Linked DNA regions of Homo sapiens. The protein of the gene in region 2 interacts with the protein of the main gene of each other region in a pairwise test. Each region holds a gene or a part of one and is shown on either strand. Other genes may lie near its edges. The genes, in order: PTCD3, TBPL1, ABCF3, RAB35 and GTF2A1.

Region 1 (3,812 bases), on a different chromosome or scaffold from region 2:
AACCTCCGCCTCCCGGGTTCAAGCGATTCTCCTGCCTCAGCCTTCCGAGCAGCTGGGACTAACGCCCTCGCCACCACGCCTGGCTAATTTTTTGTATTTTTAGTAGAGGAGGGGTTTCCCCATGTTGGTCAGGCTGGTCTTGAACTCCTGACCTCGTGATCTGCCCGCCTCGGCCTCCCAAAGTGCTGGGACTACAGGCATGAGCCACTGCACCCGGCTAAAAATGTTTTTTGCTAGTAATCATTTGTGTTCCCTTTAAATATAATCAGAATGAGGTCAAGAAAAAGTAAACTAGAATTAATGGACAGGGCAGTTCTTAAATATAACATGAACTGAGCACTAATAGGTCAGAAAATCATCTGCAATATTCCCAGTCAAATATTTCTCTACACTCCTTTCCCTACCTGTTTTGTATGTTTGTGGTAGTAAAGCTGTAATGACAGTACAGATAGAGTTTCACAATTTACTCAAGCATGCTTCCCTTTGCTAATATTCTTAATTTTATTAGTTACATAATATTCTCTTTTCAATGTATTGTTTCTAGGTTATTTTAGGCTCTCTCTTTTGGGTAAATTCCTAGAAATTATTATTACTATTGAGACAGGGTCTTGCTCTGTCACCTAGGCTGGAGTGCAGTGGGGCAAACGCAGCTTACTGCAGCTTCAACCTCCTGGCCACAAGCAATCCTCCTGCCTCACACTCCTGAGTAGCTGGGACTACAGGGGTGCGCCACCATGCCCAGCTACTTTTTTCATGTTTAGTAGACATGGAGGTCTCTCTATGTTGGTTTCAAACTCCTGGGCTCAAGCAATCCTCCTGCCTTGGCTTCCTAAATTGCTGGGATTACAGGCGTAAGCCAAAACTACTGCTGCAGACAGGCAAATTTATATACATAAGACAAACCAACACAGCTCCCCCAGAACCCCCATCCCCCAGTCCTGGCTGTTACTTAGGAAATGTAAGTACATCTGACTTTGATTAGCAATTGAACCAGTGATGAGAGTTACAGAGGAAAGGAATATACTTTGGAGTCAGAAATACTAGCTCCATCACAATCTCACCAAGGTTGAGTAAAATTTTAGGGGACACAATTATGGAAACTGTTTACCTGTTTCCAAGGTATAGTCAATTAACTGGTTCCTTTTCCTAAAGATAAAATTTGCCTATACAGGTGAGGATATGGATTTTACAAAATTAGTCCTCCAAACCAGAGAGAAACAACTTCCCTTCTGTAATTTTTATAGTCTATCCACAAGAAAGAATGACTAGAACTGTCAATTCTGAACTCAAGGGTTATTTCTCAGGCTGGGGATAATGGACAAGAACCAAAAGATTTTGAGTGCCTCATATGTGCCCTCCAAGCACAGTAGCAGACACAGTGTGGAACTCATTTAACTACCACACCCTGCTGCTATTCCTCAGGTAGGTATCTAGTCGCTTTGACATAGCTGGTAAATAAATGGTAGAGTGGACATCTCAGCTCAGGTGTGTCTCTCTTCAAAGTCCATCTACTACAGAGCAGAGCTCCCACTGGAACTGACCTAAAAGTGGACAACGCATGGAGCCTTGAGGTCCTCCCAAAACGCTTCACAATAAGTTTACCTTTCCTCTGGAGCAGAAACGTCCACAAACTTTTGGCAAAGATGGAAATGTTCTGAATCTGCATCACGACACATGGTAGCCACTAGACACATGGCTACTGAGCACCAATGTGACAAAATAATTTATTATTTTACTTAATTTTAATTAACTGGCCACATGTGGCTAGTGGCTATGGTGTTAAATAGCACAGCTCCAGAGAACAAAAGGAATTTCAACCAAAATATATTCTACCCAATTCCTGTTTGTACAACATCACTGCCAGTACAATCCATAACCCTCTCCCCTCCAGCTCAAGTTTTAGACCACAAACAAGATTGCTACCCTCAAGAATAATTTTAGGTAGTAAGACCCTGTCCAAAAAAAAAAAAAAAAAATCAGCTAGGCATGCTGGTGGGCATCTGTAATCCTAACTACTCAGGAGGCTGAGGAGGGAGGACTGTTTGAGCCCAGGAGTTCAAGGCTGCAATGGGCAAGATCCTGTATCTAAAAAAACCACAACTTTCTGCTCAGGCTGTACAGGTTAATTTACAAATTCTCTCTTCTTAATTCATATGCAGAGAAGATAACTACAACAATTAATCACATAAACTCAAGAAAGCTGGTCAATTTTCTATATAAATTAACACAATTTAAGGCCATACATACCAGGTTGATCAAACAGGCGAATAATATGGTGATATGTTGCAAGCGAGGGTTCTCAAATTACCAGGTAGACAGAAAAAATAAACAATGAGGTAAAAACACAGCAATCCAAAACATAGTTTACTGAGACACACTGAATTAAAAACATATTGTTAATATTTAAGCAAAATATGCATTTCTATTCCTTTGAACAAAGTTATTTTCCAACTCATTAATGTAAAGGTAAAAAACTATCACAAAGACTGTATCACTTTTTGAAAGTCCAAATACTTATTAGTCACATTCTTCACTGAGAACAGTAAAATATATTGAAGTGAATTGATTCCCAAAGCAACTTTCAATAAAGTAATTAATGAAAAATATACAATACACTAGCACACACTTAGGTTCAAATACCTAATTATGTTGGGAAAATGTCATGAATTTAAAACTAGCTAACTCAAAGCAATCACTTCTCCTCAGATTCAACAGATCCATAAACAAAGTACCTAAAATACTAATGAACACTAAGATGATAAAGGCACTCCCACTATAATAAGTACATGTAAGTAAATGTGCCAAACATGGAAAGAAAATTTCCAACATATTATGTAAGCACAAGAATAATTTAAAGCTCTTTGCTTATGTAGCCCTGAAACCTCTGGCTGGCACAGTCTCTGTCCTCAGAGAACTCAAGGGCGCATCCTCACCTATTCCAATGGCTTTCATTTCACGTAAAACCTGTAAGGCTGGCGATCTTGCAAACACATGAAATCTTCGGAGACATTTCAGAATGGTATTAAAAGTCTGAAGATTTGGTTTCACCTTCTGTGCAACCATGTGTCTTAGCAGCTCCTAGGTGAATAAAAAACAAGAAGTATCTTTCATGCCTGGGTAATCTGTCCAATAATCTATGTTTCATACAAAGTAAAGAATTTAGCTTTCTTGCTTATGTTTAAAGCAGGTTAGTAACTATATCCCTCTTTTAAGAACTGTTTATTAATTAGCAGGTTCCATGATTCTGCCTTTTAAAGAAGCCTGCTAATTCAAACACCCACCCCACTTGATAGAGGTGGTCAACTGTCTTCAGTCTTCTACCTAGGAGAGTTTTCCAAGAAAAGACGCAAAAATAATAGACTAGTATGATATAAAAAAGTGGTTGGTTTTTTTTTTTTTTTGAGACAAAGTTTCGCTCTTCTTGCCCAGGCTGGAGTGCAGTGGTGCGATCTTGGCTCACTGCAACCTCTGCCTCGTGGGCTGAGGTGATTCTCCTGCCTCAGCCTCCTGAGTAGCTGCGACTACAGGCGAGCACCACTATGCCCGGCTAATTTTTGTATTTTTGTAGTAGAGACGGGGTTTCACCATGTTAGTCAGGCTGGTCACAAACTCCTGACCTAAGGTAATCCACCCGCCTCAGCCTCAAAGTGCTGGGATTATAGGCATGAGCCACCGTGCCCAGCCGTTTCTATTCTTAAGTTACTAGGCGAGAATCAATCCAGTGATTTCAACTTTTTGAAATTACACCTGATAGGATTTGACAGCAAATATGCATTACTTTGTAACAGAAAAACTATTATGAAAAATAAATG
Region 2 (3,812 bases):
TTTGAATGATGCCTTAATATATATTATAATTTTTATAATATTTTAATTGTCATATTCTTTAACAAAGGTAGATGGTTTTCTTTCATAACAAACTGCTGAAAATAATATGATTTATATCTTAACCTGGACATCTTAAATTTTAGTTTTTGTTAAACCTGTAATATTTTAAAGCCTGAATATTAATAAGTAATAATAAAACCTTAGTGTTTTGAGATTAACATTATAAAAGACATTGGATGTCATTATAAACCAAAGATTGACGAGAGGAATATGTATTTTACACATTTGTTATGAAAATTAAGAATGTATCTCAAGGCTCTATTTAGCTTTAAAAATTAGATGCCAGGATACCTATGTAAATTGCCATTAATTAATTAATTTTTTTTTTTTTTTTTTTTTTTTGAGACGGAGTCTCACTCTTCCGCCAGGCTGGAGTGCAATGCAGTGGCATGATCACAGCTCACTGCAACCTCTGCCTCCCAGGTTCAAGCAATTCTCCTGTCTCAGCCTCCCAAGTAGCTAGGATTACAGGTGCACACCACCACGCTCAGCTAATTTTTGTATTTTTAGTAGAGACGGGGTTTCACCGTGTTGGCCAGGATGGTCTCAATCTCTTGACCTTGTGATCCACCCACCTCAGCCTTCCAAAGTACTGGGATTATAGGCGTGAGCCACCGTGCCTGGCCGTCATTAATTCTTAGTACTAGAAACTAAGTAAAGATGAATTAAATTCAATTAAAAATTTCAGTGACTCACAAAGATTTTCAAGTTTGTCAGCAATCCCATCCTTCCTTTAGAAAAGTAATAAATATGTCTGCTCAAAAGTTTAGAGAGGAATATGCCTAACACTGCTTTGGTACTTCAGCATGACATATGGAAAGGAAGTAGTTTTTTTAAGGCAGGTTAATTGAAAATTCTGAGTTGATAGACAAGCTGGTGATGGTGAGAGACAATTAAATGTAGGATAAACTCAGTCAAGTGTTTCTCAGTCACTTGTATATGAAATTTTATAATGTATTTTAGTTCAAATTTTATCTTGATCTTTGGTGAATTTTGAGTCTGCCCAGATTTAATAGCTTTCTAGTTTGATAATATGGCATATGACAGAGAATGAAGAACACAAAATGTAACAAAAATTTTAAGCAGAAACATCTGATTCATTTATGTTAGTCAGTGAGCATTTATGTCTTTCTTACATAGAATGAGCATCTAACAAATATTTCCATTAATGAAAAGTTGGAATGAAAATTTAAATTTGCATATTTTCTTGGAGCTTAGTCCTTGACCTATTTATACACACTCTGTAGTTATTTCATTGTAACCCATAGCTTTAAATGAATTTCCAATTACATCTCCAGCTCCAACATTTCTCCTTTATTCAAGATGCCGATGTTGAACTTGAGTATGTAATAAGCATCTCAACTCTAGGATGCAATATAAAGTAGTGATGGGTACCATGAAGCAGCAGAAAGCAGAATTAGGAATTAGAAAGCAATGAAGGGATGGGTGTTTCAGGGAAATGATTAGGGAGGGCCTCTCTTCAGGAGGTGACATCTGGTAAGAGACCTGAATGAAGTGAGAATATTGAGGGGATAATATTCCAAATGAAAGCAACAGCTACTGCAAAGCTTCTGAAGCATGAACAGATTTGGTGTGTGTGAAGAACCATGCAAGTTCCAGTTATATGACTGGGGTGGAATGAGAGTTGAATTGTTTATATACTTGGAGTACATTGATTTCAAGTATATAGAGTGAGAGATTTCTATACACCTTGTATTTTTAATTAATCAAATGTCTTTTTGGATTAATATGTTCTTTGTGTTTGGTATTGTACTTGATTTCAGAATGGTAGATTTGGAGAGCAGTTATTGCAGTCTTGGATAAGCTTGGAGAGTAGTATTTGGACATTAATATGACTATATAGAACAGAACCTTATGTGAAAAATAATGCTTATGAGGTAATCAGATTTTTTTTCCCCCCAGAAAGTATTAATGAAGCTTAGAAAACCTAGAATTACAGCTACAATTTGGTCCTCAGGAAAAATTATTTGCACTGGAGCAACAAGGTAAATGCTACTTGGGTTTTTTGTTTTTATTTTTTACTTTTTCCCTCATGGAAAGGACATTTTCCTAGACTTAACAGCAAAATCATATGTAAAGTTTGTTATGTTCCTCAGTATAACATTTATTTCCTGTGTAACTGATAATCTTTTTCTTTCCTTAAAACCGTAGTGAAGAAGAAGCTAAATTTGGTGCCAGACGCTTAGCCCGTAGTCTGCAGAAACTAGGTTTTCAGGTAACGTTTTCAAATAGTATCTAAACTACAAATATTCAAGGACTTATTTTTATAGAATTAAAAATTGTAATAGACTCAAGAAATCACTATGCGTACTATTCTTATGATTAAACTTTTTCTAGGTTTTTTAATACTGCCCTTCAGTGTGAAAATTAGTAGCAAAATTTGGCTATGTGGGTATTTGTAAAGGATCCTAGCTTTTTCCCTAATTCCTTTCCCATAAAGAGACTTGTTTCCTCACAAGTTAATTTCCTTTTCAACTCTTTTTTAAGTGTTTTCACCTCTGACGTACACAAACAAAATGGTTTTTGGTCATCTCAAGAATGCCAGGTCAGAATGGTGAATAGAGAATGGCAGAGGCCGTTGACATGGACACACCAGCTGGCAGGCTCTCACACTTGTAACGTGACTGTCACTGGCATGTCAGCCTCATCACTATAACTTGATAGAGGTATACCTTTGAATAAAACGATTACATATTATGGACTTGCTAGGTCACTTGCAAATGATGAATAAATGAAAGATAAAGATGAGAATGGTCCCTGAAGATGAGGGCAAGGCTGTTTGGGATTGAGACAAGTTTGTAGAAGTGGGGATAGGAAGTTACCTTTCCCTCTGATGACTCAGTCTCTCTGAAGTAGAGGGTGATAGGAAGAGACTGAACGGCTGGTGGGGAGTGGGGGTTGGTGCTTGAGAAGGGTGGCAGTAGAGAGAGGCTTGAGTTGTACTGTGATTTGAGAGTGCTGCCACTTTGCGGTTTCCTGGCTTTGCGCAACTGCTGTGTGCAAGGCTGAGTTGAAGGATAGTTCGCTCACCCAAAATTGTGGTTTTAGGAGGAATGTTTGAAAAGATAATGAGATGAAACGAAGATGTTGGTTGGAGTGGCCAAAGTTATTAATGTTAACAGCATTATTTTCAGCCTTGGAACTTCTTTTCTTAGTGTAACATTAGAAGTGTTGAGAGAAATCCCAATTAGTTAGAAACAAATTTATCACTCTATCCCCAGAAAGAAAATAAACATCTAGCTAATCTCACAGAAATGTCATTTTGCCTTATTGCATATGAGAAAAACATCTGACTTTTGGAGCCCAGTGTACACTCTGTATTTACTGACTTTAAAGTGACATCTTTTCCATTTTTACTCTAGCAGGATGACCTGGACTTAAATTTTTTTTCCCTCACTATTCTCTCTCCTTTCTCAGTAGTTTTAAATATTTCACTTAAAGTATTAAAAAATTAAACATATGATTAGAAAGACCCATACTGTTTTGATCATGCAAATACCTCAGTTTTTAATTTTTTTAATGGAGTTTTTGAGCTTTTTAAAAAACTGAATTAAAGCTTTCCATGCTACACAACTTACAGTACTAAACATACACTTAAAATGTTTTTGTTTTATCTTGTTTGCTCTTGTTTTTAAGGATTGCCATTATGAGCAGATTTTTTGTTTGTTTGTTTCAAAATAAATTTATTGAATTTTACTTCTCTCCTAAAGGTAATATTTACAGATTTTAAG
Region 3 (2,966 bases), on a different chromosome or scaffold from region 2:
ACATTGAGGAGAGAGCATGGGCTTCAGGGTCAGACTTCGGATCTTGACTATGCCATTTCCTAGCTTGGTTACCAAGCAGCTTCCTAACTCTTAAGATGGCGCTGACATCTACCTCACTTGGTTCTTGGGAAAAGTAAGTCCCCAGCACTTAGCAAATACTCAAGTATTGCTCACCTTAGTATATGCATTTTTCTGTAGAGTTAGAGTTCCTTTTTTTTTTTTTTCGGAGACAGAGTCCTGCCCTGTTGCCCCGGCTGGAGTGCAATGGCACAATCTTGGCTCACCGCAGCTTTCGCCTCCCGGGTTCAAACAGTTCTCCCTCAGCCCCACAAGTAGCTGAGATTACAGGCACCCGCCACCATGCCCAGCTAATTTTTTGCATTTTTAGTAGAGATGGGGTTTTACCATATTGGCCAGGCTGGTCTCAAACTCCTGACCTCAAATGATCTGCCTGCCTCAGCCTCCCAAAGTGCTGGGAATACAGGCCTGAGCCACCGTGCCCGGCTAGAGTCCTTAAAAATATTTTTTTGGTTGTTGAAGGAGTCATCGGGACTGGGGACTGCCTGGGACCCCTTCTAATTTCCTTCTCCTCTGTGTTACACACAGCGGTGCTCTTTTTATTGATACATAATTGTACATATTTATGGGGTACAGAGTGATACTTCCATGCATGTATACAATGTGTAATGATCAAATCAGGGTAATTAGCATATTCATCATAAACATTTATCACTTTATGTTGGGAACATTCAGAATCTTCTAGCTTTTTGAAAATGTACAGTCTATCATTGTGAACTGTAGCGTCCCTGCAGTGCTGTAGAACCCTAGAACTTATTCCTCCATTCCTCCTATCTAACTGCAATTTTGTTTCAGTTAACCAACCTCTCCCGAACCCCTCTCTCAATTCCCCTCCTCCCCCCTTATCCTTCCCAGCCTCTAGTAACCACAACTCTGCTCTCTACTTCTATGTGCTCAACACTTTTTAGTGCCCACATATGAATGAGAACATACCGTATTTATTTTTCTGGCACACACTGTATGACATTTTCATGTTTCTTAAGGTTGGAGAGAATGGGGCTGGGAAGTCTACCATGCTGAAGCTGCTTTTGGGGGACCTGGCACCTGTTCGGGGCATCAGACACGCTCACAGGTCAGGCCCACCCGCACCCCTGCCCCCATGAGCACATTTGCAGGCACCCATGCTGCCTGCGCTCCTTCGTGGCCATTGCCTTTGTCTGTTTTTCCACCTCGGCTTCTGCCTGCAGGAATCTGAAGATTGGCTATTTCAGCCAGCACCATGTGGAGCAGCTGGACCTAAACGTCAGTGCTGTGGAACTGCTGGCACGCAAGTTTCCTGGTGAGTTAGGGATTTGAGTCGGGGGAAGAGTTTGAGTAGGGAAGAGGGCTGAGGCTGACCCCGGCAGCTAGGCCTGCCTTGGGGTGCGTGCAGAGCAGCCCCGCCAAGCCTAGATGGAAGGACATGGGGACTTGGAGGTGTGGCTGGAGGGCACAGGGAGGGTGTTGGGCCAAGAAGCCACCTGATCTGGGGAGTCCTTTTCCAGGGCGGCCTGAGGAGGAGTACCGTCACCAGCTGGGTCGGTATGGCATCTCCGGAGAACTGGCCATGCGTCCTCTTGCCAGCCTGTCTGGGGGCCAGAAGAGCCGAGTGGCCTTTGCTCAGATGACTATGCCCTGGTGAGGCCTCATTTTCCAGAGCTCTTCCCCTCCCATTTCCCCTTCTTGCCCAGTAGAAAACTGTATCAGAAGGCTTTATTTTCTCTCACCGCACCCCTTCACTGCCCACCTTCCTGGTTCTGCCTTCCAGCCCCAACTTCTACATTCTGGATGAACCCACAAACCACCTGGACATGGAGACCATTGAGGCTCTGGGCCGTGCCCTCAACAATTTCAGGGTGAGTGTGCCTTCACCCTGACCACTCCTCCCAGGCCTCGGTGCCTCTTGTGTCCCCCTGAGCACCTCCTGCCCTCCTGTCTTTCAGGGTGGTGTGATTCTGGTGTCCCACGATGAGCGCTTTATCAGGCTGGTGTGCCGGGAGTTGTGGGTATGCGAAGGAGGCGGCGTCACCCGTGTGGAAGGAGGATTTGACCAGTACCGCGCCCTCCTCCAGGAACAGTTCCGCCGCGAAGGCTTCCTCTAGGGCCACCAGGCTGAGGACTCGCCCAGGACATGGACTGGTCTCTCAGACCCCTGGGCCACCATGTAGGCCACCACTCCAGGCCGTGGACTTCCCCCAACTTGGGGACAGCCTTATTCCCAAATGTCTCTATCCTTTTGACTGGAGCATCTTCTGCACAACCTTGGGAGCCCATCCAAGGGTTGGTGAGGACTGGTCTCCCGGGGGTGGGGGTCTGGGGGGTACCCTCTGGGGTTATAGATTCCCCCACTGCCCCAGCTCTGACTGGACCCCAAGTGGCTGCTATGTAAATTAAATCTCTCCCCGCGTCTCCTTTGCCTCATGTCTGCTGCTCCCTGGGCAGTGGTTGCCTCCTACTGAGGGCTGTGGACTCTCGGATTGGCGTTTTCCTATGGCACTTGTATCCCTCACGTGTAGGAAGCAATAGCAGCACCAGCCTTGCCTCTAGAAGAGACATTGTCAAGCTACTGGGGCATGGAGGTCATCTGCCTGCCTGACCTTGGGGTGGGCTGAGCCAGTGGAATGAAGGGCAGTGTATTGGCATCATTGCGGTGCTGTTAGCCCTAGCCTGGGCTCAGCCTCAGCTGAAGGGGTCTTGGGTTCTGTCGTCACAGCCCCCACTGATGGGCAGTTGAACTGATTGTGTAACCTGGCCTCACACGTGGCCAGCTGCTTTCTCCAGTCATATCTGGCTCCGGCTTGCCCTGCTTCTCTGCTCTCTAGACTCAGCACTGAAGAGAAACCATCTTTGTCCTCACTTTGCTTGGGTGATTGCATGTTCTTTATATTTCCTCTAACCATATAGGAGGG
Region 4 (2,889 bases), on a different chromosome or scaffold from region 2:
AGGAACCTCCGTGGGCCTCGGGCTGGGGGAGGGACCGCAGTGCAGTCTCTGCAGTGGACTGGGTGCCATTAGCAGCAGCGTTTCTTTCGTTTACTGTTCTTCGTGAGCTTCACCACATCGTTCTGTTGTTGCTGCTGCTGTTTTGCCAGGTTGTCTTTCTTTGCTCGGAGGACCAGCTCCGTGATGCAGTTGAACATCTGTGGAGAGGAAAGAGGAAGGGCCCGCCTCAGACCTGGCCAGGAGGCCCCTGCTGGCCTGCACGGCTGCCTCCCCGCCTTCCGGGGCCCAGCTCTTTCTACCTGTGCATTTTTGGTATGTATGTCTTCAAAGCCTATTCTAGAAGGAGGTGGTGAATTATTTTATTTAAAGGTCAAAAAGGAACAACATTGCTAAAACCCCACCTCTACAAAAAACACAAAAATTAGCCGGGAGTGGTGGTGCACACCTGTAGTCCCAGCTACTTGAGAAGCTAAGGTGGGAGGATTACTTGAGCCCAGGAGATCGAGACTACAGTGGGCTGTGAACACACCACTGCACTCCAGCCTGGATGACAGAGTTAGACCCTGACTCAACAAATAAATAAGTCTGAAAAAAGGAACACCATCAGAGGCCCATGAGCTGTGTGGACTTGGGGAAGTCAATCTCACAGGGGTTTTCCAGTCCTTCTTTTAGAGAGACCAACCCCTTTCCTTCAGCTGGAATCTTTTTTTTTTTTTTTTTTTTGTGAGATGGAGTCTCGCTCTGTCGCCCAGGCTGGAGTGCAGTGGCGTGATCTCAGCTCACTGCAAACTCTGCCTCCCTGGTTCACACCATTCTCCTGCCTCAGCCTCCCGAGTAGCTGGGACTACAGGCGCCCACCACCACGCCCGGCTAATTTTTTTGTATTTTTAGTAGAGACAGGGTTCCACCATGTTAGCCAGGATGGTCTCGATCTCCTGACCTCGTGATCCGCCCGCCTCGGCCTCCCAAAGCACTGAGATTACAGGCGTGAGCCGGCGCGCCCGGCCCAGCTGGAATCTTATGACATGACAGATGAAAGTGCCCCTGCTGTTCACGGACATAGGTGACCCGGGGTCTGCCTGCTCCACGCCACTTCATGGCATGTGGGGCCCAGAGAGGTGAAGTCACCGCCCAAGGTCATACCAGCCTTGCCCACAGGCCCAGGTGGATGGGCCAGCATCAGGACACCAGCCTGACTTACAAAGGAGCCTGTGCCCGCTGCTGTGTGGCCCCTGTGCCCTGAAGCAGTGGGATCCTCGACTTCCACAGGCCTCTGGGCTCCACACAGCACAAGGCGGCCAATGAGGCAGAGGACTGGAGTGGAAACTGTGCTTGGCTTTGGTGTGGGACAGAGGTTTACTCAGTCTCTTACTAGCCAGGTGGTGGTCCTTGAGTTACTTCAACACTTGGAGCCTCAGTTTCCCTATTTGAAATGTGGGTATAATTGTACCTACCTCAGAGGACTGTTGAACTATGAACTAAGATCGTTAAAGGGCCTGGCACATAGTAGGCACTCAATAAATGGCAGTTACTATGACATTTTCTGTTGGTCATTTAGATGCCTCAAGCAGGCCAGCAGCATGGAGAAGGCGGCCACGGGTGTGTGGCAGAGCCACAGTGGCCCAGGGCCTCACCTCTTCCACGTTGACATTCTCCTTGGCGCTGGTCTCGAACAACTGGATGCCCATCTGCCCGGCGAATTTGTAGGCATCTTCCGTCTCCACCACCTTCCGCTCAGGGTCGTCATTCTTATTACCCACTTCAAACGAAGGCAGAGTCAGCGCAGCCCTGAGGGGCGCAGCCGGCTGCCTCTCTCCCACCCAACCCCGACCCGGCCCTGAGTGCAGCCTCACCTAATATTCGGCACACATCATCACAGTTCTGGTTGATTTCGTGAAGCCACCGCTTGACGTTGACAAAGGACTCGGCACTGGTGACGTCGTAAACCACAATGACCCCGTGGGTCCCCCGATAATACCTGCAGGGCCAGAGTGTGCGGCAGCATGTCAACCCCGACAGGAGTCACCCCCTTGCCGGGACCCACCTGCCCACGTCAGGACACTGACCCGGAAAAGGTGAGGGTGGCCCTGGAGCCTGGGCTCTCACTCAGCCTCGGCAGATGCCCCCGAGCCACAACAGGCCAGCAGGAGAGGCTACTGCGGCAGCACTGACTCCCCCTGCCCGCCCGGGGCACCAACAGGGCGGGAGGGCCAGCCCCTGGGCAGCAGAGCAGGTCTGAGGAGTCACCTCCTGCTGTTCAGAGTCTGCTGCAGGCTTGAAACATCTTTGAAGTTCTTGCTTTATTTTGGGAAATCAGGCAGTTTTTGTATTTGACATCATGTTATCACTGTCTTTGAACATTCAAAAAAATATTTGCTCCTCAAACCTGTTTTAGAGAACCTTTCCAAGAAGCCACACCATCATGACGCCCTGGCAAAGTCTGTGCCCCTCCCCTGGGGCAGGTAGGCACCTCCCTTCCTGCTACTCTTGGCTCATCTGTGCAGGTGGCAGGAAAAGCATGGAAGCCACACAAGCATCCAGGGATGGCTGGGGAGAGGGCGCCCAGCAAAGCCATCACCCCAAACATGCAGAGCCCAGGGCCAGCCAGGAAGGCCAGAAGGAAGGGGAGGCCCAACTCTCCTCTCCAGACCCCATGTCCCCATTCATCCCAGTGGCACAGGACGACATCAATCCCCGGAGGAGGAGGGGGACCACAGCCTCCGCTTCCCCGAGAGCTGTCGAAGAGCCGGAGGCCAGGCGGCAGCCCCGCCCCACACTGTGCAATCAGCCAGAGCTGTCCCTCTGTCCCCTCTCCCCAAAGCCGCAGGGACCTCCACCCCAGGGCTCCTCAGGACAGCACACAGACAAACCATGAGTGGACAGGCCGCT
Region 5 (3,812 bases), on a different chromosome or scaffold from region 2:
GACTCCATCTCAAAAAAAAAATGGATCAAGCACACAAAAAATATCAAGGATACATAAAGAGCATCTGAGCAAACCTACTGACAATATAAATCTAACAGACACATACAAATACCAAACAAGTGCAGAAAACACATTCTTTTCAAAGCATATACAAAAACTGACCAAATCAAGCAAGTCTCAAGCAATTTCAAAAGATTCACACATCACACAGATCATATTCTCTACAAACAAAACAGTTAAGTCAGAAAAGAATAGAATGGGAAAAACACACTAGAGAGAATAAAGCTAAAAGTTTACTCTTTGAAAACATTAATAAAATCAACACATCCCTGGTAAGACTGAACAGGGAAAAAAAAAGATGGCACAATAATTATATTAGGAATGAAGATGACAAAGGATTCTGGCATCAAAAAGACAATATCATGATTAACTTCATGTTAATCAACTTGAAAATTTAGATAAATATATAGAGAGTCCTAGAAAAATATAACTTATCAAAACGGTCTCAAACAGAAACAAAATACTTGAAGGGCATGAGATTACTAGACCCAGGTATCTGTAGTGTCATGTTTTAACAAATATCAACAGAAGAATTAAATACAATCTTTGAAAAAAAAAAAAGAGTTCAAAATACAGGAAACATGTCCCCAAATTCATTTAACAAAGCTACCATAACTGAAAACCTTGTAAGAAGAGTATGAGAACAGAAAATCACACAGTATCTATCAATCATAAATATCTACAAAAAAGTCCTCAACAAAATGAATTCAGCAATTTATAAAAAGAGAAATATAAAATGATCAAGTTGTGCTATCCCAGGAGTACAAGATTGGTTTACAAATAGAAAATCAATTAATGAAATCCATTATAAATAACATTACGTGAGAAATTATACAAATCATTGCAGAAAAGGTGTTTAATTAAATGCAACATTCACTTACAGTTTAAAAAACAAAGCAATGCAAAGAAGGGAATTTACTTAACCTGATGAAGATATCCATTAAAAAAAAAGAAAACCCACAACAAACATTAAACTTAACAGTGAAGCATGGAAAAGATTACTTTTCAGTTTAAGAAGAAGAGAAGAGTGCCTGCTATCACCACTTCTAATCAATACTGTTCCCGAAGGCTTAGCCAATGAGCCACAAAAAACTGCCGTTCTTCATATAAGATGTGAAAGTCTACACAGAAGATACAAAAGAATCTACAGATACATTATGAGGACTAACAAAAGACATTAGGACGGTGGCTGGTTCAAGGATGAATATTAAAAGCGCTACATATTTCCATCCTACCAATAAACTGGAAAAGGTAATAAAAACATGTTACTTCAAGAAGCACTGAAACTATGAAGAATTTAGGGGGAGGAAACGGGCAAGAGACCTCAATAAGCACTTCTATACAAAACACAAATATCAAATAAATATACAAAAAGAGGCTAAAACTCCTAAGTGAGGAAATGCAAACTAAAACCAAAATGAAATAATACTATTTTCTACCTACCAGACCAGCAAAAATCAGGAAGCCTGACACTATCAGGTATTGATAAGGGGGTATGGACATCTGCACAATTATGTATTGAATGGCAGAAGTGATTTGGCATTTTATTATAAAGTTGCAGATGTGCATGACTTAGGAGCCAGAAGTTCAATGTTCGGTATAAAATTTAGAGAACCTCTTGCATTTGTGTCCCCAGAAGACATACACTACAATATTTTATAACTGTTTGTAACAGTAAACAACAAGAAACAATCCTTATGTCCACTGGATTAGAAAAATTGACAAATAAAATTATGGTATATTCAGCAATGAAAATAATTATAGCTATATGCAACAACTTGGATAAACCTCAGGAATATCATTTTAAGGGGAAAAAACCAACTTGCAGAAGAATACGTAATTACTTCATTTACGTTGTAAACATGCAAAACTAAACAATATGCTATTTAGGAATATAAATATATATGGTAAAATATAAAAGCAATTAATAATCAACACAAATGTATGAGCAAAGGTACTTTGATGGCCTAGGAATGATGGGATTAGGGAGAGGCATCTAAGGCACTTTAAATAATGGAATTTTATTTTAACTAGATGGTGGGCACCAGGATGATTTTTATCTTGAAACATTTCTATTCATTTGTGTCTATTCAATATTCAATAATAAACTATGTTTTCTTCAGAAAAAAAATTACTTAGATAATTTAGAAGAACTTTGTACTAAGAAACAAAAAGACTGCATTTTAGGCTAACGAAGGCAATTAACAGTGAAAATTGTGGTGGGACAAATAGTTTTTGGAGCCTAGTAACTAAGCTGAAATAGTGAGGAAAACAAAGGCATATTTATATGCTTCTAGAAGAACACAGACATTAAGGGTACATAGGTTTTTAAGGAAGTGGTATAGAACATGGACCAAAAGGTTTTAAATATTTAATAAATTTGTGACATTTGGTTCTTGAGTTTGCTCTCTCCCCAAATGTTGCCACGCTTTTTAAATTACTGAAGCAAAAGATTAACCACATCTATTTATCTACCAATGTCTTATGTTTAAGCCACATTATAAATGCGTAAGCCAGAGTTAGAATTACCTGTACTCTTTACTACACATATTAATACAATTTAATTTGTTATACATTTTTTATTACCAGCTATATGAAAGTTATATTTTATGAAGATAAATATAGCCAGAATATAAAAACCTTACTAAAGTTAAAACAATCTAACTTTATCTTTAAAATCTTATGTTGTACAGCACCTAACAGTCTCTGAAAAAAACAGGATATAATTTATCAGTGTTGTACCAACTAAAAAAGGAAATAATCAAGTAGATTATTTTAAGTATGTTACTAGAAACTTACTTCTTCCACCTGCCCATCTTCAGCTCCATCTTTCTCTTTGTCTTCCTCCTCATCATCATCATAGTCTTCTTCTTCATCTTCATCTTCTTCAGATGATGTATCCCCAGTTCCATCAACTTGTAAGACCAATGGAGCTTGTGTTTGAGCAGGCTGGGCCTGCGGTTGCTGCTGGCCAGTTGCAGTTATCTGTGCTTGGGCTGGTGTAGGTGCTGCCACTGTCGTAGGTATAACTTGAGTCTTATTTCCTGTAAATAAGATTTGCTGAGGCTGGATGATGACACCTGTCTGTGGTGAAATCCCTCCAGGAAGAGGAGCCAGCACCTAAAGCAAAAGAAAACCACATAACAGTAACTAGTTAAGAGGATCAAGTATGGTACACAGAAATAGAAACAAATGCTTAAGATTCACCAGAATGGCCATATTTCATACACAGTTAAAAACTACCAAAGTACAAAAGCAATTAGTTTAACTAGTGTAGTGACCCATTAAATTTCTATTTTATCAAATTTCTAGAAAATAAGGATTTTCTAAAGATAACTGCTTCATTTATTGAGCACATACTATGTATATGCCAGCTACCAGGACAAAAGTTATACACTGCCTTCACATGAAGAACACTGGACTGAGAATCTGAAAACCTGGGTCTACCTTTTTTTTTTTTTTTTATAGATGGAGTCTCGTTCTGTCACCCAGGCTGGAGTGCAATGGTGTGATCTCGGCTCACTGCAACCCCTGCCTCCTGGGTTCAAGCAATTCTCCCACCTCAGCCTCCTGAGTAGCTGGGACTACAGGTGCGCGCCACCATGCCCGGCTAATTTTGTTATTTTTAGCAGAGACGGGGTTTTGCCATGTTGGTCAGGCTGGTCTCGAACTCACGACCTCATGATCCGCCCGCCTCCCAAAGTGCTGGGATTACAGGCGTGAGCCACAACGCCTGGCCAACCTGGGTCTAC

The links.
Region 1: the proteins of TBPL1 (region 2) and PTCD3 interact in a two-hybrid assay, tested with the Homo sapiens proteins (one large-scale study listed by IntAct).
Region 3: the proteins of TBPL1 (region 2) and ABCF3 interact in a two-hybrid assay, tested with the Homo sapiens proteins (one large-scale study listed by IntAct).
Region 4: the proteins of TBPL1 (region 2) and RAB35 interact in a two-hybrid assay, tested with the Homo sapiens proteins (one large-scale study listed by BioGRID and IntAct).
Region 5: the proteins of TBPL1 (region 2) and GTF2A1 interact in binary tests that used the Homo sapiens proteins (3 or more experiments, as listed by UniProt).

What each region holds. Positions count from the first base shown.
Region 1 is NC_000002.12:86,126,427-86,130,238, reverse strand, and holds part of PTCD3 (small ribosomal subunit protein mS39 precursor), read right to left. Parts: intron 3,079-3,812; coding exon 2,934-3,078; intron 2,299-2,933; coding exon 2,248-2,298; intron 1-2,247. UniProt on the Homo sapiens protein: Mitochondrial RNA-binding protein that has a role in mitochondrial translation.
Region 2 is NC_000006.12:133,980,585-133,984,396, forward strand, and holds part of TBPL1 (TATA box-binding protein-like 1), read left to right. Parts: intron 1-1,983; coding exon 1,984-2,066; intron 2,067-2,232; coding exon 2,233-2,296; intron 2,297-3,791; coding exon 3,792-3,812. UniProt on the Homo sapiens protein: Part of a specialized transcription system that mediates the transcription of most ribosomal proteins through the 5'-TCT-3' motif which is a core promoter element at these genes. Seems to also mediate the transcription of NF1. Does not bind the TATA box.
Region 3 is NC_000003.12:184,191,540-184,194,505, forward strand, and holds the end of ABCF3 (ATP-binding cassette sub-family F member 3), read left to right. Parts: intron 1-1,061; coding exon 1,062-1,150; intron 1,151-1,265; coding exon 1,266-1,357; intron 1,358-1,562; coding exon 1,563-1,695; intron 1,696-1,825; coding exon 1,826-1,913; intron 1,914-2,000; coding exon 2,001-2,159; 3' UTR 2,160-2,466; downstream 2,467-2,966.
Region 4 is NC_000012.12:120,097,177-120,100,065, forward strand, and holds part of RAB35 (ras-related protein Rab-35), read right to left. Parts: intron 1,979-2,889; coding exon 1,854-1,978; intron 1,760-1,853; coding exon 1,635-1,759; intron 198-1,634; coding exon 69-197; 3' UTR 1-68. UniProt on the Homo sapiens protein: The small GTPases Rab are key regulators of intracellular membrane trafficking, from the formation of transport vesicles to their fusion with membranes.
Region 5 is NC_000014.9:81,189,660-81,193,471, forward strand, and holds part of GTF2A1 (transcription initiation factor IIA subunit 1), read right to left. Parts: intron 3,181-3,812; coding exon 2,860-3,180; intron 1-2,859. UniProt on the Homo sapiens protein: TFIIA is a component of the transcription machinery of RNA polymerase II and plays an important role in transcriptional activation. TFIIA in a complex with TBP mediates transcriptional activity.